Homo sapiens: one gene and its partners. The protein of the gene in region 1 interacts with the protein of each later gene in a biochemical or structural test. Each region holds a gene or a part of one and is shown on either strand. Other genes may lie near its edges.

What was found.
Region 2: the proteins of EIF4E (region 1) and BIRC2 form a complex in vitro, tested with the Homo sapiens proteins (one study listed by BioGRID).
Region 3: the proteins of EIF4E (region 1) and RNMT form a complex in vitro, tested with the Homo sapiens proteins (one study listed by BioGRID and IntAct).
Region 4: the proteins of EIF4E (region 1) and IPO9 form a complex in vitro, tested with the Homo sapiens proteins (one study listed by IntAct).

What each region holds. Positions count from the first base shown.
Region 1 is NC_000004.12:98,898,099-98,905,136, reverse strand, and holds part of EIF4E (eukaryotic translation initiation factor 4E), read left to right. Parts: intron 1-3,154; coding exon 3,155-3,261; intron 3,262-7,038. UniProt on the Homo sapiens protein: Acts in the cytoplasm to initiate and regulate protein synthesis and is required in the nucleus for export of a subset of mRNAs from the nucleus to the cytoplasm which promotes processes such as RNA capping, processing and splicing.
Region 2 is NC_000011.10:102,364,178-102,371,215, forward strand, and holds part of BIRC2 (baculoviral IAP repeat-containing protein 2), read left to right. Parts: intron 1-4,128; coding exon 4,129-4,371; intron 4,372-7,038. UniProt on the Homo sapiens protein: Multi-functional protein which regulates not only caspases and apoptosis, but also modulates inflammatory signaling and immunity, mitogenic kinase signaling, and cell proliferation, as well as cell invasion and metastasis.
Region 3 is NC_000018.10:13,736,655-13,743,692, forward strand, and holds part of RNMT (mRNA cap guanine-N(7) methyltransferase), read left to right. Parts: intron 1-355; coding exon 356-481; intron 482-3,512; coding exon 3,513-3,625; intron 3,626-4,855; coding exon 4,856-5,037; intron 5,038-5,833; coding exon 5,834-5,998; intron 5,999-7,038. UniProt on the Homo sapiens protein: Catalytic subunit of the mRNA-capping methyltransferase RNMT:RAMAC complex that methylates the N7 position of the added guanosine to the 5'-cap structure of mRNAs. Binds RNA containing 5'-terminal GpppC.
Region 4 is NC_000001.11:201,881,127-201,884,799, forward strand, and holds the end of IPO9 (importin-9), read left to right. Parts: 3' UTR 1-3,165; downstream 3,166-3,673. UniProt on the Homo sapiens protein: Nuclear transport receptor that mediates nuclear import of proteins, such as histones, proteasome and actin. Serves as receptor for nuclear localization signals (NLS) in cargo substrates.

The DNA of each region.
Region 1 (7,038 bases):
GGAATATGGTAGGATTTTGCAGTAGAGTTTTGTTTTTAAACTGAATGTAAACTTAAAACTATTTAGTGTCTATAGGAAGCAATCTTAAAAATAAGGTTAGATACCTTAAAATAGAACTTGTTTCTTGAAATATTTTTTAGTTCCCATATAGATCATACGAAAAGATGACTGTCTATGCCCAATAAAAATTTTTATGGTATTTCACATCATTCGTTTTAAAATCTAGTATGTTTAAAAGTGAAGACTAAAGATTTTAAATTAGTATACTTACTGATTCATACATACACACATATTTAAAAATGTGTAGCTCCTTTTTTAAGTTGTTGGAAAAGTACAAAATCATGTGTCCTTTTTTGTTTTGTTTTGAGACTGAGTTTTGCTCTTGTCGCCCAGGCTGGAGAACAGTGGCACGATCTGTGCTCACTGCAATCTCTGCCTCCTGGGTTCAAGCAATTCTCTTGCCTTAGCCTCCCCAGTAGCTGGGATTACAGGCGCGTGCTACCACGCCCAGCTAATTTTTGCATTTTTAGTAGAGATGGGGTTTCACCATGTCGGCCAGGCTGGTCTTGAACTCCTGAGCTCAGGTGGTGCACTTGCCTTGACCTCCCAAAGTGCTGGGATTACAGGCGTGAGCCACCATGCCCGGCCGATTATGTGTTCTTGATATGAAGACTATAGTAATCAGTTACTTACAGTGGGACTTTTATTTTAATTCAAAATAACACTTTAAAATTCTAGGAACTGAATATGTTTTTCCTGAGTGATAACTTGCTTTTAATTCCTGTATGTCCAAAGACTTGAGAGAGAGAGAGAAAGAGGATTGTTTCTTTTTCTTTCTTCCCCTTTCTTCACTGGGTCTCACTTGCTGAGGCTGTTTTCGAACTCCTGGACTCAAGCAGTCCTCTCGCCTTGGCCTCTCAAAGTGCTGCAATTACAGACATAAGTCCCTGCACCCGTTCTGCTTACGTTTCACAAATACTGGGCAGTTGCAAGTTTTGGCTTAGCTGTTCTTCTCTGTTAGGCCAACCAGAGTTACGCTCTGAAAGTGCCAGTTTAGGAGTTAGCCAAAAACCTGTGAGGGATTTTTACATATATTGAGGAGCCCACTTCTCATCTACAGCAGTTTTTCTCTGGTACCCTGTCCCCCAAAGCCTACCTGCCTGCCAGTCTCTCATTGTTTTCATCGAGACTCCCACTGTCTGCCTGGAAACCCATCATTAATTTTAAGCTAGTGGGATAGGAAATGTCATTCAGTAATTATCTGTTTGAACACTTAAATTTACTGGTAAGTAAATGTTGATAAAAATGTTTGGTTTTAAGGCATTACTTACTGTATGTCAATTTTCAGGCCTTAATCATTCTGTGTAAACATTTAAATTTATTCAGTTAAGTAATCAAGTTAATAAGTTCCTGTTGGGTTAAGTACTGTGATTATTGAGTAAAATCAAGACATGGTCTCCGTTCTGGGTGACTTTATAGGCTAATAGAAATTCTTGTACATGTCATATGTTGATAAGAAAAAACATATCCCTTGGGAGGCCAAGGTGGGAGGATTGCTTGAGCTCAGGAGTTTGAGACCAGCCTGGCCAACATGGTGAGACCTTGTCTCTACTAAAAATAAAAAAGAATTAGCCAGGTATCATGGTGCCTATCTGTAGTCCCAGTTACCGTGGAAGCTGAGGCAAGAAGATTGCTTGAGCCAGGGAGATTGAGGCTGCAGTGAGCTATGAGTGAGACCCCATCTCTAAGAAAAATAAAATACAAAAAAAAAAAAAACCCATATTCTTTCAAATAAATATTTACCACCTTTCTGCTCTGCATTCTTTTAGACAATAAATATTTGACTTACATATCTTGTTATGTTAACATAGATCTCTGTTGTTTGCTGCTTCAGTCTGATATCCAAACACTTGTTGCATTGCCCTTTTTTTGGTATCAGTCTTTGTCCTAGTGCCTTTCTTTGGCTCTCTTCTTTTGTTGACAACAATTTATGATAGTATGAAGAGCTACATGGAAGAATGTGGTGAACACCTATTTTAAATTACTGCCCCCAGACTACTTTTCTTTCTGATATTTTTAGATGACAGTGTTAATTTTGTCTAGCCTAAAAGAAGATTTAAGTTCAAGCCAATGTCCATCTTGTTAGGTTCCATTGAAAATATTAAGTTGCCGAACTTTTAGGTTACGATAGGGTAAACAGTATGCCATGAAGGTAAGACCTGCGCATCATTGGCTTGATCACTTTACAAAGCTTTTTTGTCATCATAATGTTGTTTTGTTTTGTTTTGTTTGTTTTTGAGACAGGGTCTTGCCGTGTTGCCCAGGCTGGTCTCAAACTCCTGGGCTCAAGCAATCCTCCTATTAATCCTCCTATTAATCTCCCGAGTAGCTGGGATTGTAGAGACGCACCACAGTGCCCAGTGATACAGTTGTTATACTCTTGAAACTTTAGTTTCCATCCTGTATCCTTCCTGATACCCCCTTCAGTACCATATGCAGTATCTTAATATGATGGTATGTTAAGAAAGATAGAAGATTTTCCCAACTTTGTTGCATAGTCTGTGACAGTCTTCCTGCTATTTAAAAAAAAAAGTGCAAGTGGAAGGATAACTATAAATACTGTTATATTTTCAAATTTGAGAAACCGTTTGCTCTTTGCTCTTAATGAAGAGATATGAGAATAGAGAATGGTTCTTTAGAGTTTGGTCTGTGGTCTGTTTTATGAAGCAATCTGCTTTAATTCCTTCTTCTTAAAAAATACTACTAGTGCCGGGTGTGGTGGCTCACGCCTGTAATCCCAGCACTTTGGGAGGCCAAGGCAGGTGAATCACAAGGTCAGGAGTTCAAGACCAGCCTGACCAACGGGGTGAAACCCCGTCTCTACTAAAAATACAAAAATTAGCCAGGCATGGTGGCACACATCTGTAATCCCAGCTACTTAGGAGGCTGAGGCAGGAGAACTGCTTGAACCTGGGAGGAGGAGGAGGTTGCAGTGAGCCAAGATCGCACGACTGCACTCCAGCCTGGGCAACAGAGAGAGACTCTGTCTCAAAAAAAAAAAATTATCAGCATATCAGTTCAGGTTTAGTTAGAATATTGCTGTCATAGATGTGTTAAGACATTTAAAATAATGTTTTATATTATTTTCCACTAGGAAACCACCCCTACTCCTAATCCCCCGACTACAGAAGAGGAGAAAACGGAATCTAATCAGGAGGTTGCTAACCCAGAACACTATATTAAACATCCCCTACAGAACAGGTAAGCTTTCTAACACCTAGGTTTTCTGAGTTAGGCCACAAGGTAAATTGTGAATGGGGCAAGTTTGAAGGGAAAGTTAGATTATGAGACTAGTTTTAGATATGCTAAGGTTGAGGGTTCTATTTTCACTTGGATGACCCATGACCAGCAGACAGTTTTATGTGTGAGTCTTGAGTTCAAAAGGAGCTATGTGAGAGATTAGTTTGAAAAGTATTGGTCATAATGGAAGCCACATTAGTAAATAAGTTCCCTTAAGGAGAAGTGAACTTGACTCAGGACAAAGACCGGGGATACTAGCATCATATAGGAGGCTTTTGTTGAAGAAGAATGCCTATGAAGGATGGACATACAAAGACAGTGGTGGTCGCCCAACGCGGTGGCTCACGCCTGTAAACCCAGCACTTCAGGAGGCGGAGGCGGAGGCGGAGGCGGGCGGATCACCTGAGGTCAGGAGTTTGAGACCAACCTGGCCAACATGGTGAAACCCCGTCTCTACTAAAAAATACAAAAATTAGCTGGGTATGGTGGCAGACGCCTGTAATCCCAGCTGCTCGGGAGGCTGAGGTGAGATAATTGCTTGAACCCAGGAGGTGCAGGTTGCAGTGAACTGAGATCGCGCCATTGCCTGCCAGCCTGGGCAACAAGAGCGAAACTCCATCTCAAAAAAAAAAAAAAGAGACAGTGGTGGTCATGGAAACCAAGAAGGTGGTTTATTCTAAGATAGGGTGGTTTACAGCACATGTGCTAAAAAGGTCAAATGAAGCAAGATGTCAAAATATCCATTGGATTGAACACTTTTAAAAAAGTCCGTGCTGACTTGGGAAAAAGTTTTTTAGTAAGGTTCCATAGAGTAGTTCCATAAAACATGGAAAAAGAGATTAGGGCAGTTTGAAGAGTGAATAGGAGATATACAGATGTATAGAGTAAGAACAGGTGACTTGAAGTTGGACTGAGAATGAGAAACGAGAGCCAGGGAATGTGGAGTTTGAAGGTTGGTTGGTTTGTAAGTGAGAGACTAGAAAAGGGGACAGATTAAAATTAGTTAAGTTTTCATAGTTAATAGTGTAACAGGAAATTGAGTATTAGTTCATTATATGGCTTTTCCCAACTCTTCCCACTCCTTTCCAGTAGGTTTGTTTTTATTTATTTTCTGGGGTATATGAGAATTAACTTGAGTTCACTGAATGCTGATGGTGGGAAGAAAATGGCAGTTCAGAAACATTGTAACAATCTAGAGGAAAGTAAATTGGAATTAACTTCTGAGGTTCTTGAAGTATTTCAGTTCATTTCTTGTCTTTTTTTGTTTTTATTTACTTTTTTTAGGGCAGACCATTCACTCTCTACTTAAAAGAGTCCACAAGTCTATTTATAATTGTTTCATTTATTAAAATTTTTTTATGATCTCAATTTTTTTAAATGTTTCCTTTATTCATCATGGAAGACCTACTGAAATAAATAGTTCAAATATGCTGTATGCAGTTTTCTCATAGGAGACCCTTTGGTTCAGTATATCCTCCAGTGAGGAACAAATCAGTTTTTTAGACAATGGAGATTCTCAGCTAGTGGGACATCAGAGGTCAAACAGTCTATAAAGGATAAAATCCTTCCTCAGGGAAGCAATGTACCACATGTATTAGGTTGAACAATTCGTTAGAGGCAGTCTTATATAGTTTAACCTAATAGTAGCACCAAAACCCACATTTTTTTTTCATTTTTTTCAGTGATATGAAACAAACTGTATATCTTCTAGCTGTCTGTGAACCTAGTTCTTGGTGTCACTTTTATTGTGGGGAGAAGTAAACAAGGCATATATCCCTCACAGCTTGAATGGAGTCTAAGAAGGGATTCTTAAGTGTCCTCATCAGTTTAAAAAAAAAAAAAAAGTTTAAATCTTAAAATGAAGTCTCTGGGGACTTCAGTTTCTCTATAAATTCTACTTTTTGTGTAAAATAGCAAGTATCATTTGGAAAAATACTATGTTTTATGGCTCCAATTTTGGCAGTTTTCTCATTATTTACTTCTTGCATTTTACTTTCTTCACTCCCCAGAGTAGTCAATGTTAAATTTGGTTTGTATTCCAGAAGTATTAAATGCACATATGTATACTTTTTAATACATACGTCTATACAGTTGACTTTTCTGTTTGTATGTGCATATTTTACCTCATTGTTTTAAACCACCGTCTTGCATTATATTGATATACCACCATATATTTTATTAGGTTTACATTAATGGCTGTATAGATTTTTCTTTTTACACACAGTGCTGTAATTTACATCCTTACATAATTGTGCACTTGTGTGAATATATAGGGTAAAATTTCAGATCTCCTAGAACAAAGATTACCCTTTAACAACCTTTGCGCAGATACTGCCACATTATTCTGTTTTATTGGCTTAGACTTAACAGTTTGAGAGTTCCTGGTTTCTATATCCTTGCTAACTCATGTGATTAGTCTTTTAAGTTGTTGCCAATCAGATTGGTCCCAGTCTGATTTGGGAAAACAATTTCAGTATTTTCAATTTGCATTTTAAAATTGAAGTTTCAAAATATTTTCATATTGATGATTTGTGGTTTTTATCTGAGGACAGATTATTCAGTTCTTCTATTTTTTTTCTTTTGGATTATCTTTTTTTTCCCCTACTTTCAAGCTAACAAGTTATGGAATATCTTTTCAAGTTTATTTCCAAGCATTTTATATTAGAGTGCTAACTCACCCAAGGCAGGGAAGTTGGAGGAGTATTAAGTCAGAAAGAAACAGGTTATCCATATCATTTGTCTTCTAACATTGTCTGTGGAATTGTATGGTTTTTTTTTTTTTAGAGGTCTTTAATTTTCATGTAGGCAAATACTGCTTTTCCTCAGTGGTTTCTGGGTTTCATATCAATTTTAGGAAAACTTTACCACACAGTTAAGCTTTTTTTTTTAAACTTTTTAATAGTTGCATAGTAGTCACTTGCGTGGATGTATGATATTTTATTTAAATCAGCAGTACTCAAGTATTTGGTCTCACAATTCCTTTACACTCTTAAAAATTATTGGTGACTCTACAGAGCTTTATGTGGATTTTTATCTATTGTTATTTACTATATTTTTACAGTAAATAATGCTAAGATGTTATTTTATTTTTCACATTTAAAAATGTATAATTTCACCTGAAAAACTTGAGAAATGTAAAATTATTCGTTTAGAAAATCTATCACATGTTAACCTAAGTGACATTTTGTAATGAAAATAATTATTTGAAATAAAAAATATATAATGGGAAGAACAGCATTTTTGCCATCTGTTTTTTTTTTTTTCGGAGTCTCGCCCTGTCGCCCAGGCTGGACCTCCACCTCCCGGGTTCAAGCGATTCTTCTGCCTCAGCCTCCCTAGTAGCCGGAACCACAGGTGTGTGCCACCATGCCCGGCTAATTTTTGTAGTTTCTAATAGAGACGGGGTTTCACCATGTTGGCCAGGCTGATCTTGAACTCCTGACCTCATGATCCACCCACCTCGGCCTCGCAAAGTGCTGGGATTACAGGCATGAGCCACCGCACCTGGCCGCATTTTTGCCGTCTTAGAAGTCAACTGGATTTTCATAGCTGTTTCTGCCTTCAGTCTATGGAGTTAAGATGTTTCATTGGAAGTATAAGAAGACAATACAGCCTCACACAGGTATTTGGTTGGAAAAGGGAGAATAGTTTTTAAAAGCCTTTAAAAATAATTGTTGATATGCTCCTTTGATACACTACTAGGTTTCTTTTTTCCCCCCCCTTTTTCGTAGGACACAT
Region 2 (7,038 bases), on another chromosome or scaffold:
CACACACACAGAGAGAGAGAGAGAGAGAGAGAGAGAGAGTGTAATGACACTGTGGAGGACCCTAAAAGTGTACTAGTTTTTGTTCTAGTGCTATACTTATCACTTTTAGTGCTGACATTCCAACTGGAGAAATGAGACATAAGCAAAAGAAAAACAAAAAATAGTTCAAAGCAATGCCAAATAAGCGGTGCAAATAATAAACCCTCCAGAAAAGAAGAGTTTGCTGTGAGTTGGCATGATTTGGAAAACGTCAATTCACATATGATTCAAGAATTGGACTAGATGTTAGGTATTTAAGTCAGGTATGTTGTATTTCAGTGCAAGGGCAGGAAATAGTATAGCTTTTGATTAGAGCTTAATGTTAGCCACATCTGTCAATTTATGTAATATACATATGTTATTGTGTCTAAAATGGCTAAGGTAGTAATCCCGTTTTATGTGCCAATCACATCTACAAAGGGCCATTCTGTTTGTGGCACAGCATTTCAAGAAAGATTGGCAGATTTGTTAACTGGACCAGAGAAAGGTGACCAAGATGTATGAGTCTTAGAAACCATGGCTCAGGAGGATTGGATGAAGGATTTGGTAGTATTTGACTGGAAAATAGGAAGGAGAGTACTGGAAAATAGGAAGGAGAGTACCTGGGTACATGACAACTATCTCCCGTGTAATAGACCTAGAAAAGATAGATAGCAGTGTGGGCTGTTCTTAAAATTTATAACCACTGCTATTAAGTAGGCTGCCCTGCAGTTCTACCATAGGTCCTAATAAAATCACTTTGTCAATCTTTAAAATGACTGTTTCTTGTTTTCTGTCTTGATAATTTTCTAACACTCTCTTCCCACCTTACTGTCAGTTTATAATCTTGCTTCCCTAAGAAAATAGAATCCAAAAGAGAGCTGCTTTATTGCCTCACCAGCAAAACCACTAGGCTACATAATTTATCCTTGTACTTTTCTGTTTGTTCATAAAAGATGAATTGTCCTTGCCCTTTTCTAAGGCCATTACTTCTACTTGTCCTCTGTATTCCATCCCCTACTGTCAACTTAAGAAGGTTACTTTGGCAGTGACATACCCTTTCTCTCGAGTCTTCAATTTTTCCACCTCTCCTGAATCACTCATGTTAGCATATAAACATAATGTACTTTTGCTAATCCTAGGAAAATTTCCATGAATGAATGTCCCCATTCAGCTATTACCTTATTACTCTGCTTCCCTTTACAACAAAATACCTAGGAAGATTTATCTGTGCTTAACTCTGTTTTACTTCCTCACCTTTCATTCTTTCACTTGTTCTGCTAGAAACTGTTCTTGTCATGGTAACCAGGGACTGCCGTGTTAGCAAATCCACTACTTGACCTGTTAATTAGCATTTGATAATCACTGGGTGCTTTGTCGTTGTTTTTTCTTTTTGTGAAACAAGGTCTCACTTTGTCACCCAGGCTGTAGTGTGGTTAGGTGCCATCATGGCTCACTGCAGCCTTAACTTCCCTGGCTCAGGTGATTCTCTCACCTCAGCCTCCCAAGTAGCTGGGACTACAGGCATGCACCATCACATTCAGCTAAGTGTGTGTGTGTGTGTGTGTGTGTGTGTTTGTAGATACAGGGTTTCACCATGTTGCCCAGGCTGGTCTCAAACTCTTGAGCTTAAGCAATCTGCCTGCCTCGGCCTCCCATAGTGCTGGGATTGCAGGCATGAGCCACTGCATTTGGCCTCATCTTTCTTAAGACACATTTTTTGCTTGACTTATCAGACCCCATACTCTTGGTTTTCTATTTCCCTGGTTGGTCCTGAACAATTTCCTTTGTTGGCTGCTCCTTTTTCAAACTTCAAAATGTTGGAGTACCCCTCATAGCTCAGCTTAAATTTATTTCTCCATTTCCTGAGCCCCAAGCTGGAATGTCCAGCTAACTGTTTAAATCTCTACTTGGCTGTAACAGACATTGTAGAGTTAATATGACCAAACCGGAAATTTTCTTCCCCATTCTTCATCCCTCAGATTTGTTCCTTCTTTGGTCTTCCCCATCTCAGTTAATGGTACTCATTTCCCAGCATTAAAAGTTGGCTCAAGTTAGGCATCATCTCTGATTCCTCTCCTTCCTTTAGTTTGTATATTTAATCTATCAGAAGTCTTTTCATTTCTGTCTTCATAACATATGCCAAATCTGACTACATCTCACCATCTCCACCACTGTTTTTTTTTTTTGAGATGGAGTCTTGCTCTGTTGCCCAGGCTGGAGTGCAGTGGCGCAATTTTGGCTCACTGGAAGCTCCACCCGCCGGGTTCACGCCATTCTCTTGCCTCAGCCTCCCAGGTAGCTGGGACTACAGGCGCCCACCACCACGCCCGGCTAATTTTTTGTATTTTTTTTTAGTAGAGATGGGGTTTCACTGGATTAGCCAGGATGGTCTCGATCTCCTCACCTCATGATCCGCCCGCCTTGGCTCCCAAAGTGCTGGGATTACAGGCATGAGCCACCATGCCCGGCCCTCCACCACTATTAACCTAATCCAAACTACCGTCATCTGTGTCTAACATCCTAACAAGTCTTCCTGATTCTGGTTTACCCCATTAAAGTAACATCTCCACCGAGCTGCCAGAGTCATCTTCTGAAAACACAAGTCAAGTTTTATCAGTTGCATGCTTGAAACACTCCTAGAATATTCTACCAAACTTAGAATAAAATATAAACTCTTAGGAAGCCTCTGCTTATCTGGGCATTGTCCTCCTTTTTTTACCTTCTACCACCTTCTTTCTGTTTCTTGATCATGTCAAGCTTTTCCCTCAATTTAAGGTTTTTACACTTGCTGTTCTCTTTGCTTAGAAGACTTCTTTGAGATATTTCCATAGCTCACTCCTTTTTCCCCCCAGTATTAATAATTTTACATGTAATAGATGTATACATTCTTCATAAGGGAAAGAAAACTAAATGCTGTAGGCAATGCCAAATTCCCCTCTGATGCTTACATACAGTTCTGTTTCTAACTTCTAATACCCAGAGCTCAGTAGCATGGGCTAGGTATATACCAGTTTAGTTCGTTTGTATATTTTTAAATTTTTTCACAGTAGTCCAGCATATATTGCATTTTATTTATCCATTCCCTATTGAGAGCTATTCCTGTTATTTTCTGTTTTTTTTTTTCTGCTGTAAATATTGCTGTAATGATCCTCTAATGTGTCTCTTATCTTGAACATAAAGTATTTCCTCAAGGCATGCGCTTAAAAATGAAATAGAGCTCATTCCTTGTTATTTAAATCTTTGTTCTGGTGCCATTTCTTCGGACACGGATTCCACGCGTGTTTGAACAAGAGGGGACATTGTTGACGTTGTATATTTATTATAAGTTTCCAGAAGATGGCAGTAGTGTCTTGAAGAATTATGTCTTTTTGTATTTTTTCATAAAAGTATCATATGGGCTAGCATTGACTCTTAGCAGAAAATGCTTCCCTGACTACCCTATCTAAAATGACTTCCTGCTTCCTGGTTTCTTTTAATGACCTTACACTACTTTTTTCTTCAGAGCATCTGTCACTGTCTAAAATCATACTGCCTTAATTACTTCTGAAGCCATACTTTTTCACTACATCTTCTGGGTGAACTGATCTTCTATTTTACTATACTTCCCATTTTTGTTTATGTTATTCTCTCTACCTCAGCAATCCACTTGTCTAGACCCTGTCCATCCTTCAAGTCCAAACTCTAATGCGCCACTTTTCCATGAAGTCTTTGTGATTTCCCCCCACTTTCCTGGCTGGAGAAGATTATTTCTCACTTCTAAGTTCGTATAGCATATTGGTTTCCAGAAATGACTATACATCAGAATCATTTGGGAAATATTCAAAAGATACAGATTCCTAATTCTTATCCTTAGAGAATCTTTCATTAAGTAAGTCTAGGATGTAGCCAGAGAGGTGGGTTTTGTAAAAAGTATAGCATATTAATTGTATTCTCATTTGACCATTATGAAGTTCAAACTTTTATTGGAGTTATAGGTAATCGATGCATATAGCTCATCTCCTTTACCAGAATATGAGAGTAAAGGATGAATAAAGATTGTGCCATGATACTTTTTTCCATAGGTTTATGTTTGTGGAATTTAATATTAGCATGTTTCTTTTCAAATAGTTATTCATTTTGGACCTGGAGAAAGTTCTTCAGAAGATGCTGTCATGATGAATACACCTGTGGTTAAATCTGCCTTGGAAATGGGCTTTAATAGAGACCTGGTGAAACAAACAGTTCAAAGTAAAATCCTGACAACTGGAGAGAACTATAAAACAGTTAATGATATTGTGTCAGCACTTCTTAATGCTGAAGATGAAAAAAGAGAAGAGGAGAAGGAAAAACAAGCTGAAGAAATGGCATCAGGTATTTGGGGATGTTAGTCACCTGCATTGTTTCTCAGTGGAGCTCTTAGGACTGTCTCACATGTTACAGGACACCATGCTTGTTTCACATCCACTAACTGCTGGTAGCAGTCCTCCAGTCATTTCGAAACCATCCCTCCTTTTCTACCCCTTTCAATTGCTTCTAGTTGAGAACCATTGACTGCCGCTTTTTTCTATACATTTATTTTCGGATGAGGTTCTCTGATTTATGCCAATCAGAGAATTTTAGCATAATAAGCTCTTTCTTGAGCTGTATTCCATTTCTTTCTCATACATAACAAATTTAAATTGTTTTGAAAAAGCAAGATGTTAAAGTTGGATGCAGGTCTTTTTTCAACCTGTTTTTTTTTTTAAGTTTCTGCAAATCATATTTTTAATAGGATACTTTACTCCCTAATCCTTGCTAAGTGATCCTCATACACAAAATAGAACTTACAATGAAATTCTGGGGCTTGATGAGAACCACCTGCCCAATCCAAGGATAACAGGAAAACTGATTTTTGTATTCGTCCAGATAGTATTAAGTCTCGGCCTCTCAAAACAAGTATTTTGAGTAATCATTTATTCCTTCAATAAATTTTTTTTTTTCTTTTTTCTATTTTTTTTTAATTATACTTTAAGTTTTAGGGTACATGTGCACATTGTGCAGGTTAGTTACATATGTATACATGTGCCATGCTGGTGCGCTGCACCCACTAACTCATCATCTAGCATTAGGTATATCTCCCAATGCTATCCCTCCCCCCTCCCCCCACCCCACCACAGTCCCCAGAGTGTGATATTCCCCTTCCTGTGTCCATGTGATCTCATTGTTCAGTTCCCACCTATGAGTGAGAATATGCGGTGTTTGGTTTTTCGTTCTTGCGATAGTTTACTGAGAATGATGATTTCCAATTTCATCCATGTCCCTACAAAGGACACGAACTCATCATTTTTTATGGCTGCATAGTATTCCATGGTGTATATGTGCCACATTTTCTTAATCCGGTCTATCATTGTTGGACATTTGGGTTGGTTCCAAGTCTTTGCTATTGTGAATAATGCCGCAATAAACATACGTGTGCATGTGTCTTTATAGCAGCATGATTTATAGTCATTTGGGTATATACCCAGTAATGGGATGGCTGGGTCAAATGGTATTTCTAGTTCTAGATCCCTGAGGAATCGCCACACTGACTTCCACAATGCTTGAACTAGTTTACAGTCCCACCAACAGTGTAAAAGTGTTCCTATTTCTCCACATCCTCTCCAGCACCTGTTGTTTCCTGACTTTTTAATGATTGCCATTCTAACTGGTGTGAGATGGTATCTCATTGTGGTTTTGATTTGCATTTCTCTGATGGCCAGTGATGATGAGCATTTTTTCATGTGTTTTTTGGCTGCATAAATGTCTTCTTTTGAGAAGTGCCTGTTCATGTCCTTTGCCCACTTTTTGATGGGGTTGTTTGTTTTTGTCTTGTAAATTTGTTTGAGTTCATTGTAGATTCTGGTTATTAGCCCTTTGTCAGATGAGTAGGTTGCGAAAATTTTCTCCCATTTTGTAGGTTGCCTGTTCACTCTGATGGTAGTTTCTTTTGCTGTGCAGAAGCTCTTTAGTTGAATTAGATCCCATTTGTCAATTTTGGCTTTTGTTGCCATTGCTTTTGGTGTTTTGGACATGAAGTCCTTGCCCATGCCTATGTCCTGAATGGTAATGCCTAGGTTTTCTTCTAGGGTTTTTATGGTTTTAGGTCTAACATTTAAATCTTTAATCCATCTTGAATTGATTTTTGTATAAGGTGTAAGGAAGGGATCCAGTTTCAGCTTTCTACATATGGCTAGCCAGTTTTCCCAGCACCATTTATTAAATAGGGAATCCTTTCCCCATTGCTTGTTTTTCTCAGGTTTGTCAAAGATCAGATAGTTATAGATACGCGGTGTTATTTCTGAGGGCTCTGTTCTGTTCCATTGATCTATATCTCTGTTTTTGTACCAGTACCATGCTGTTTTGGTTACTGTAGCCTTGTAGTATAGTTTGAAGTCAGGTAGTGTGATGCCTCCAGCTTTGTTCTTTTGGCTTAGGATTGACTTGGCAATGCGGGCTCTTTTTTGGTTCCATATGAACTTTAAAGTAGTTTTTTCCAATTCTGTGAAGAAAGTCATTGGTAGCTTGATGGGGATGACATTGAATCTGTAAATTACCTTGGGCAGTATGGCCATTTTCACGATATTGATTCTTCCTACCCATGAGCATGGAATATTCTTCCATTTGTTTGTATCCTCTTTTATTTCCTTGAGCAGTGGTTTGTAGTTCTCCTTGAAGAGGTCCTTCACATCCCTTGTAAGTTGGATTCCTAGGTATTTTATTCTCTTTGAAGCAATTGTGAATGGGAGTTCACTCATGATTTGGCTCTCTGTTTGTCTGTTGTTGGTGTATAAGAATGCTTGTGATTTTTGTACATTGATTTTGTATCCTGAGACTTTGCTGAAGTTGCTTATCAGCTTAAGGAGATTTTGGGCTGAGACAATGGGGTTTTCTAGATATACAATCATGTCGTCTGCAAACAGGGACAATTTGACTTCCTCTTTTCCTAATTGAATACCCTTTATTTCCTTCTCCTGCCTAATTGCCCTGGCCAGAACTTCCAACACTATGTTGAATAGGAGT
Region 3 (7,038 bases), on another chromosome or scaffold:
TAGTTTTTCTAATCCTTACTTAGCTTTTTCTCTCATCCTGAACAAGTGTTGTGTTGTCTTATATTAGAATTTTAAATATCTGCTATTTAAAATTCATTTTTGAAAGTTAACATTCAAAATGCTGCCTTTATTTTCCAAAACACCAGACACGTACTCTTTAATGATAGAGGATCAGATTAATCAACTCTTAGTCATATTTTTAGTTACTTATCAGAAGTTACAAATTACATAAATGGATGTGTAATAGTTTATGTTACATATTGGGCAAAAGATAGTAGGTTATTAGAGGTAACAGTTTATACTTCAGTAAAATTGAAGAAGAGGTAGTTTATTGTGACTGATTTCTCTCTTTTAGGAGAATTTTTGGAAAAGGTACGACAGAAGAAAAAACGTGATATCACTGTTTTGGACCTGGGATGTGGTAAAGGTGGAGATTTGCTGAAATGGAAAAAAGGAAGAATTAACAAGCTAGTTTGTACTGGTAAGATAAATAATGATATGGGAAAGAATAATTTGTAGTCAGATAAATGGAAAATAAGAAGGATTGTCTCAAATTGCAAGATATCTGGGACTATGCATGAGATGGGTTTTTTTTAAATTAATTACGGCCTGACGCGGTGGCTCATGCCTGTAATCCAACATTTTGGAAGGCTGAGGTGGGTGGATCACTTGAGGTCAGGAGTTTGAGACCGGCCTGGCCAACATTGTGAAACCCTGTCTCTACTAAAAATACAGAAAATTAGCTGGGCATGGTGGTGCACACCTGTAATCTCAGCTACTCAGGAAGCTGAGGCAGGAGAATCACTTTTACCTGGGAGGTGAAGGTTATAGTAAGACAAGATCGCACCACTGCACACCAGCCTGAGTGACAGAGCAAGACTCCGTCTCGAAAAAAAAAAAATTAGTTACAAGACTTTCCTGATAGTTTCATAGTAAGATTAATAAGCCTGGGATAACGTTTCCTTCCCAAAAGGAAGGAAGCTATCAAAGATGGTCGGAGTCATGTCTAAAGGGCAGACTTGAAAAGGTTTCCATTGGCAAAAATAGGGCAATTTTAACATTAAAAAAAAAATAGCAGTTGGACACATCAAATCAGAAAAACACATTGTTCACCCTTGAAGGTTGCTAAGAAACTATTCTGAAACTTATAAATTAAGGGGAGGAAATCAAACATTTGTAATCAGATGGTTGAAAAGGGCAGTTCCTTTTTTTTTTCAATCAGATAAAGAGGAATTATAGAATTAGAAAATCATAATTTTTTTCATTCTTTATGAAATAATAGATCTAGGCAATAATTTTTTTTTTTTGCTACGGAAGCCATTAAGGGAAAAGTCGATAGTAACGCAATGAATCAATCAATCAATCACCTTAGCCCGGTGGTTAGTCTTAACACTGAAGTGGGACAAGCAGACGTCAGCGTCTTTCTGATGTGGTGAGTTAAAAGAGATACATACCCCCACTACTGAAGTACTGCCCAAATTAGCAGTTCTCAGATTTTTTGGTTTTATGAGCCCTGTATACTTAAAAATTATTGAGGACCCCAGAAAGCTTTTTTGTATGTAATTATGGTAAGTAGCTACTGATATTTACTATATTGGAAATTAAAGCTGAGAATTTTGAAAATATTTTTTAGTTCATTAAAAGTAACAAGGCTGGCTTTTACATTTTTGTAAATCCCTTTAGAGTTTGAAATTGCAGGAGACAACTGGATTCTCACACCTGTTTCTGCATCCAATATGTTGTGATTTTATTTTGGTTGATAAGTAGTTGTAAAATAAAGAAGTATTTTAATAGCCTTTTTTGATAATTGTAGATATTCCTCTGTTACTACATCAAAACTCAGTAAGTGGTAGTTTCTTAAAGAGTAGTTACAATATGGAATCTGAAACCTTAGTGATGAACTTTTTATACCGTGTAACATTAAAATCCATTAATCTGTCTTGCACTTCCTGCATGATTTTATAGTACTTGGAAAATACTGTTCACTAAAGTTATGCAGATCTAATTGTTGAGAATCAAAAAATCACGTGTTTAATATCACTGCCAATCAGAAAAGTATTGGGAAGAAGTCCAGCCCACAGTGATCAATACGAGTTTTTCAGGGTTGTAATTCTTATTTGAAAGTCAATTTTATTTTTGGCAACAAATACACTGTCCCTTGTCTCCCTTTAAATTAGCGATCCCTAACCTTTTTGGCACCAGGGGCCGGTTTCATGGAAGACTGTTTTTCCACAGAAGCGGGGGGATGGAATTCTACCTCAGATCATCAGGTGTTAGATTCTCATAAGGAGTATGCAACCTAGCTTGCCTGCCACTCACCTCCTGCTGTGCAGCCTGGTTCCTAACAGGCCGTGGACCTGTACTGGTTTGTCGCCCAAGGGTTGGGGAACTTTAAGTGACAGGTTCACTTTGTTCATTTTCAAGAAAATATGTGCCAGGTACTGAAGTCTGCATAACCGTAGTTTGTCAGTCATTCAAGTCAAAATAATTTTCTCAGAAAAAAAGTGGCCAGTACAGCTCAAAACTCAGAACAGTCATATCAGTACTGTTCTTGAAGATGACCATCATACTTTGTTAGGTAGCAGAAATGTTTTGTTACTTCCCATTTCATCACACAACATTTTAAAAAGTGTGTATTCAAAAGCCCAGGTTTAATAAAATTAATTTTCACTATTTTATAAAGGGTATTCTTAAATGAAACTGTTTTTCTCCCCCTGCATATTGTATAGTGGTGAAGAATACATGAAGTACTGCCAGTACCATTTAGTGCTGCTACTTTGTATTTGTGATAAGATCCCATTGCCTTTGCATTATCAGTGTGAATCTTTAAACAGGGAAAAGGGCAGGCTGGGCACAGTGGTTCATGCCTATAATCCCCAGCACTTTGGGAAGCAAAGGAGGGTGGATCACTTGAGGCCAGAAGTTAGAGACCAGCCTGGCCAATGTGGTGAAACCCCATCCTCTACCAAAAATACAAAAAATTAGCTGGGCATGGTGGCACACAACCTATAATCCTAGCTACTCGGGAGGCTGAGGTATGAGAATCACTTGAACCCTGGAGGCAGAGGTTGCAGTGAGTGAAGATTGCACCACTGCACTCCAGCCTGGGCAATACAGCAAGACTCTGTCTCAAAAAAGAAAAAAAGAAAAGGGCTAATAACATTTTATTATAAAAATATACCCTTGGTATTTCCAAAACTGGGCTTATTGATAGTGTTAGGTTTTATAATTCAGATTGGAATAAAACTTTCTCCTTTTTACTTTGAATAAGCATTTAAAAATCATGATAGAACTTTTATAGCGTCCGTACCTATTGAGACGCTTTTAGTTCCTCTTGAAAACTGATAGGGTATTTGCGTCGGAACAAAGCCCTTTTCTTTTCTTTTAAAGGAAATAAAACCTTTTCACTGGTACTAAGGCTGACTTTTATGCCAGAGTTTGTCAGTTGAGATCAATGTCTAGATTTCTGGCATTCTGTGTTGATACTTACTAATACCCTTCCATCCTTCCAGATATTGCCGATGTTTCTGTCAAACAGTGTCAGCAGCGGTATGAGGACATGAAAAATCGTCGTGATAGTGAATATATTTTCAGTGCAGAATTTATAACTGCTGACAGCTCAAAGGTACAGTTTCTTTCTTTGGTCAATTTATTTTTTACATTTTTAGTTTGGGTAAATAATTTGTTTTAAAAATCAACTCAATTTTTACTTTTTTAAAAAAATTTACTCTTATTTTTTGAGACAGGGTCTTACTCTGTCACCTAGGCTGGAGCACAGTGGCACGATCTCAGCTTACTGCAACCTCTGCCTCCCAGGCTCAAGTGATTCTCCTGCCTCCCAGCCTCCTGAGTAGCTGGGACTACAGGCACATGCCACCACACCCAGCTAATTTTTATATATTTTGTAAAGATGGGGTTTTGCCATGTTGCCAAGGCTGGCCTCAAACTCCTGAGCCCAGGTGATCTGCCTGCCTCCCATAGTGCTGGGATTACAGGCATGAGCCATGGTGCCCGGCTACTCATTTTTTAAAATGTGTTTTGAAACTTTAAAAATCTTGGAATATGCATTTTCACTTTTGACTGGAAATTCTATTATGATAAATTCCCTTGAATGACTCACTGAATACTTGTAATTTTTTGCTTTTAATAATTTGAATTGAAATTAGCTGTTGCTTTTCGGTATGGACATCATTTATTTTCCAGTATTTTGAAATAGAACTGAACTTATACTATGTTTTGTTCACCTTGTAATTTATTAGTTTCCCAACATATCAGAGCCTGTTTGGTTTTTTCCTACCTTCCACCTGTTTCTGAATTTCTTAAAAAGAACTGCTTCAAGGGTGAAAGTCTCACCATGAACTTTTTGTTCTTCATTGACTTATTGACTCACTGAACTGTTATAGATACCTTTAATCATACACATTTTGTTTGAAATTTGAAAGTGAAAAAGATAAGTGGGAGTATACTGCCAGAAAGTTGTAATACCTTTAAAACATTTTTGCATTTTTTAAAAAATGCCAAACGCCAGATGTTTTTTAACTCAAGTTATTGTTGAATGTCATTTTATTTTAGCTGTCAAGTAAAGTGATGAAAGGATCAAGTTGAAATGTCATAATTGACTAATATATTTTAAACATGATTTCAGAATTCCTCAGTTTTTAAATACTGTGAAAGTGGGAATCAAATTATTCTGTTAAACTAGAATACATGCATGATTTCTGTGTGTCCTTTATTGTACAAGGGAAAGATTGTGAGGGAAAGGAAGAACCTTACATTCTAGAAGTTAATTTACTAAAAAGTTTTTAATCTTTGTTGTAGTTACCTCACAATCTTAACTCATTTTAATTTGTTTCAGGAACTTCTGATTGACAAATTTCGTGACCCACAAATGTGTTTTGACATCTGCAGTTGTCAGTTTGTCTGTCATTACTCATTTGAGTCTTATGAGCAGGCTGACATGATGCTGAGAAATGCGTGTGAGAGACTTAGCCCTGGGGGCTATTTTATTGGTACTACTCCCAATAGCTTTGAATTGATGTAAGTACTTCTAAATATATTGTGGTTTATAAAATATTCAGTATTAAGTAGCAAATGTTTATCAGAGGTAGATTTTATTAAAATACGCTATTTTAATCTTATAAGTGTTGAACACTTTCATAAGATATTTGAGTAGACATTCAAAATTTAAATTCAATAGACAAATTTACAGGTGAACTTTTAACAGTTCATCTTTGTGTGTAAGTTAGAGACTGAAGTTATAGTGATAGACAAACTGCAGGTCAGATACACAGGCACAGAGATGAACCAGCTGTCATGAGAGTGATACCTACTTCCAGCTTAATTTTATTGGTGTGACTGTTGGTGATCTTTTAGTATATTGCTTCTTAAAAGTAGCTCAAATCAGGAGAGTGCAGTGGCTCATGCCTATAATCCTAGCACTTTGGGAGGCCAAGGCAGGAGGATTGCTTGAGGCCAGGAGTTTGAGACCAGCCTGGACAACATAGTGAGACCTTGTCTTTACAAAAAATTTACAAATTAGCCAGCATGGTGGCACGCCCCTGTAGTCCTTGCTCAGGAGGCTGAGGCAGGAGGATCACTTGAGCCCAGGAGTTGGTGGCTGTAGTGAGCTATGATCACACCACCACACTCCAGCCTGAATGACAGATTAAGACCTTGTCACTTTAAAAAAAAAAAAAAAAGGTAGCCCAGATATAATTAAAAGGCTAATCAAGTGTGCATCATGTAGTTTTTCACATGCATAATCTGATCAAAATAAGTCTACACTAATCACAATTTTAATCTTTTTATTTTGGTTGGGGGATAACCTTGATAGAAGACGCCTTGAAGCTTCAGAAACAGAATCATTTGGAAATGAAATATATACTGTGAAATTTCAGAAGAAAGGAGATTATCCTTTATTTGGCTGCAAATATGACTTCAACTTGGAAGGTGTTGTGGATGTTCCTGAATTCTTGGTCTATTTTCCATTGCTAAATGAGTAAGAAGTCATTAATCTGTTCACTCTTTTCTTTTTGTCTTAAGGGAAAGAAAAGCGGGGAAAAGCAATATTTATTTTACTCTTTATTTTAAATGAGGGCTAAAGAAAAAGTATAATCTTGTTTTTTTGTTTTTGTGTTTTTAAAAAAAAAAAACAAAACAAGACTAGCTTCACATCTAGGGGATTATTGCCATAGGTCTCATAATAGCCTAACTTAGTTTTCTCTCATTCCTGGAATTTTTTAATCCTGTGGGTGAAAAAGGGAACCAGTTGCCTTCAGCTTGTGGCACAAAATGCCTGACACTGCAAATAGCAAAAGTTTTTTTTTTTTTTTTAGTGACTACTGGTAACTTTGATGATAAACAATGAGTCTTCATAAATCAAAGATCCGGCCGGGCGCGGTGGCTCACGCCTGTAATCCCAGCACTTTGGGAGGCCGAGACGGGCGGATCATGAGGTCAGGAGATCGAGACCATCCTGGCTGACACGGTGAAACCCCGTCTCTACTAAAAATACAAAAATTAGCTGGGCATGGTGGCGCGCGCCTGTAGTCCCAGCTACTCGGGAGGCTGAGGCAGGAGAATGGCATGAACCCGGGAGGCGGAGCTTGCAGTGAGTCGAGATCGCGCCACTGCGCTCCAGCCTGGGCGACAGAGCGAAACTCCGTCTCAAAAAAAAAATAAATAAATAAATAAATAAATAAATAAATAAATAAATAAATCAAAGATCCTCCTTTTGACAGAGATGAGTATTAAAAGTTGTTTGCATTTCACTATAACTTTGAAATTGCCTATGTCTCACAGGCAATGTTGATGATAAAATCCTGATTCAGGAATGTATTCTCCCATGTGCCTGAATTCCTAGGAGTCCTGGCAAACTGTAGACACAGGAAAAGCTGGGGGTAACTGGGCCTTACCAGGTAAGGCTTCAAGGCCTTGTGATACACCTTGGTTTCCAGAGTTTCCCCGGTGGGGAGAGTATAAAAGTCAGCTTAAATGTAGGCCATGTCATGATTGATTGAACTTGATTTTCTACTTTTT
Region 4 (3,673 bases), on another chromosome or scaffold:
ACTGGCTAATGGTAACCTGGGGGAGGAAGTCGGGTAAGTTGCATGGAGAAGGCAACCCTTGAACACTTGCAAGGAGCTAACAATACCTGCTTCTGGAGTATTTAAACGCCAGTGGGTATGCTAAATACTTTTACCTCAGACCACCTACTAACCTTACAAAGTAGTCCACTTTGCTCACCCAGTTTTACAGATTGATGAAACTGAAGCAGACAGATATTGTTAACCTATCAAAGGTCACCCTGCAAGTGTGTGATTATAGTCCAAGCAGCTTGTACTTGTTGCCTATTTGTTTTGCCTTTCCTGTGCATTTGCCAGGCAGATGAGAGTGGGGTAAGACATTGCAGAGAAAAAGTAAGAAAAGGCCGTCATGAAACAATTTCATTTTCAGACCTTATAAGCACGTTACAAGTACTGATATTTATGCTTAAGTTCACGGGAGTCCTGGCCAGAAATAAAGCTGGAAGGACAAGTGGGGGGCAGATTGTGAAGGATCCTTCAAGACCTGCTTCCTCTAGAGAATGGGAGACTACCCAAGATAACTAAACAGGGAAGTGATCAGGTTTTGTGTCTTAGAAAAGTGTTGCAGTGTTGATGCAAATGTGACTAGAAGGGTGACTTGGAACCTGGATTGAAGGGGTGGGAGATGGGAGAAAGGAATGCAGTCTGGCAGCAGCTACAGCAGTCCAGGTGGGAAAACCCAGAGCCTGAACTAAGGTTGTAACTAGAGGGGATAGGGTGGAAGAGCTGGATTAGAGATGTTGACAAGATAAAGTCAGTAGGACTTAAAGACTGACAAGTAAGGATTTTCCAAAAGTGAGAGCTGTGGAATGAATTGTCTTAAAATGTTGCAGTGAGTTCCTCCTCATCAATCCAAGTGCTCGATCAGAGGCTAGACCTTTAGTTAGCAGTCACGGGAAAATTCCCCATTCTCACGGGGATTTAGACTAGGTCTTAACCATACTTTACCAAGATTCCAGTAGCAAAGCACCCAAAAGTAATCGCAATAAAATTCCAATTTTTGTAGGCCGGGCATAGTGGCTCACACCTGTAATCCCAGCACTTTGGGAGGCCGAGGCAGGCGGACCACGACATCAAGAGTTCAAGAGCAGCCTGGCCAGCATGGTGAAACCCCGTCTCTACTAAAAATACAAAAAAATTAGCTGGGCATGGTGGCGCATGCCTATAATCCTAGCTACTCAGGCAGCTGAAGCAGGAGAATTGCTTGAACCCGGGAGGCAGAGGTTGCAGTGAGCCAAGATCATGCCACTACACTCCAGCCTGGGCGACAGAGCGACACTCTGCCTCAAAAAAAAAAAAAAACAAAAAAAAAAACAAGTTTTGTGAATTTAAGTTTCCCTAATGGATGGTACAGGTCAACATTTGCCATCTAATGACACTTACATTCCAGTTTTTTCCTTTTTTGAGTAACTGGGAAAAGGGTGGCATTACTGCTGGCTTCCTAAAATTGAAAAGTATACTAGGGTTTTTAAACCTGTGTAGAATACATGATATGGTAGCAAATGTGCTGTAGGAAGAAAAGCAATGAGGAACTACTGGCCTGACTAGGAGGCCTAGAAGTCCCTCCCAGGCTTGAGTTGTTCTGACTTGGCATGATTACATAGCTGCGGCAAGTGACGTTTCCTTCAAGCCTTGGTTCCCTCATCTGTAAAATAGGGAACTAATACCTACCTCACAGGATTGTAGTTAGAATTAAGGATGACTTCATTAAAGCACCTCTAGTGGTGGAAGATGTCCCATCCTATCCCCCACCCATAGCTGGGAGCTATGTTTGGCTCATTCTTCCTGACTCACTGGATTACACTGTGACTCAGTTCAATTTCACACATGCTGCTGCTAAATTAGGGTCTTGGTGAGCCTTTGGGAGGACAGCTCTGAGGAATGAATTGTAGCACTGCAGCCCTGCCTGAGGAACATGATAGAAACAGGTGGTAGGCCCAGCTCTTGCCTTCCACCTACTAAGCAGTTTTTCTGTGGTTAGCTGTGTGACATAAACTATCGGTGTATTAATTTGCTTTCACTAGATTCCCCCCCCCCCAACAACTTAGTCCAAGAACATACCTGAATTCTTTGCATTTCCTTGCCTTAGTTGCTTTTGTAGGGTGGACAGCAGGACTGCATGAGAATAGCTGTGCTTCTGGACCCTATGGTGAAAGCTCTAGTGAACTGCAATTAGGCCCAGGGTCCCGGAGGAAGAAGGGGAGAGAAAAAGGGGGGTAGTTTTCCAAAAGATAAGTAGGGGACAAAAAAGTCCACGGGGCCTATGAGCGGTGAGACTCCTGCCCTGATTGTGGCAAAGCACCTGGAGATGATAGAACTTCCTAGGGAAAAGGCTGCATGGAGTCCCCAGGGATGCTGGGCCCTGGTCACCAAGGCTCCCTGGGAAGGTCTCTTGTACCTGGGGCACACAGACCAACACTTCTGAATTTGCAAGCTTAAGAGCATGTATGAGCAGAACCTGTGCAGACCAAGGCTTAGAGGGCTCACCTCAATGTTTTGCACTGTGTGAGACCCCAGGACCTTTTCGTGATTCTGGAGAGGGGAACAAACCATAATAACAACAAACCAGGTAGCAGGATAGAGACTCATTCTCATCTATTTTGGTTAAAAGAAAATAAATGTATTTCTTCCACACCTGATTTTGTGATTGCAAATTCATAACTAATATCCCTCGTCAGCTCCGCTGACTCATCCCTGCCACAGGGAGGTTCACAGCAAGAGCACAGAAACTAGGGCCAGTGCCCGGTTGTGTGACCTTGAGTAAGTTCTTTTTCCCTTGAACAGGGAGAGAGACACAATGGATCAGAGTGTCTCTGCCAGTTCTAACTTGGGGATTCTAGTGGGTTGAACCGAACGGTAGTCCGTTTCCAAAAGAGGAAGCCAAGACCAGAGGGGGAGTGGTTCCTTCAAGTTTGCAGAACCAGTAAGTGGCAGAGCAGGACTCATATCTAGTTAGTGGTTCAGAGCATGGGCTCCGGAGCTAGACTGCCTGGATTTGAACCCTGGCTTTGCCACTTGCCTGTTGGGTGACTTTGGACAAGCTGCTTAAATTATGTCTCCATTTCCTAATCCACAGAACAAGTGTAATACTAGTTATCTGTTTCATGGAGTGATTGTGAGGATTAAATAAAGTTAATATAACACAAAGCACTTCGTAGTGCTGCCTCATAGTAAGTGTTAATGTTACCTATTATTAGTCTGATCCCAAGTCTAATGCAGTTGTCACCACCTAAACCTGCCTTTACAGAGCTGGCCTTTCTGAGAAACCCTGTGCCTCTGTAGATTCAACACTCCCATCTGTGCAGATGGCTAACAGCTAGGCTGAAAACAGAAACCTTAGGTTGGAAAGGGTCAGCTGGAGGGCTGAGGCCCATGGCCCCAAATCCTCCCCAGGAGAGAGAGTAGGTTCAGAAAGGAGAGAGCTATAAACAGAGCCTTCCTCCCTTGCCCTCAGATCCCAAAATAACACTTGTCTACCGCCATCCTGCCCAACTGGCAGAGTGGCAGGCTGAGTAAGGTGCCATTTAAAGATAACCTGGCCCTCACCATCTGCCCCACTGGCTGGGCTGGGCTCCTGAGGCCAGGCCTTGGCTGCCTGGGACTGCTGCTGCTCCCACAGCCACCCAGAGTGTGCCTGAGTAGGGGGCTGCTCACA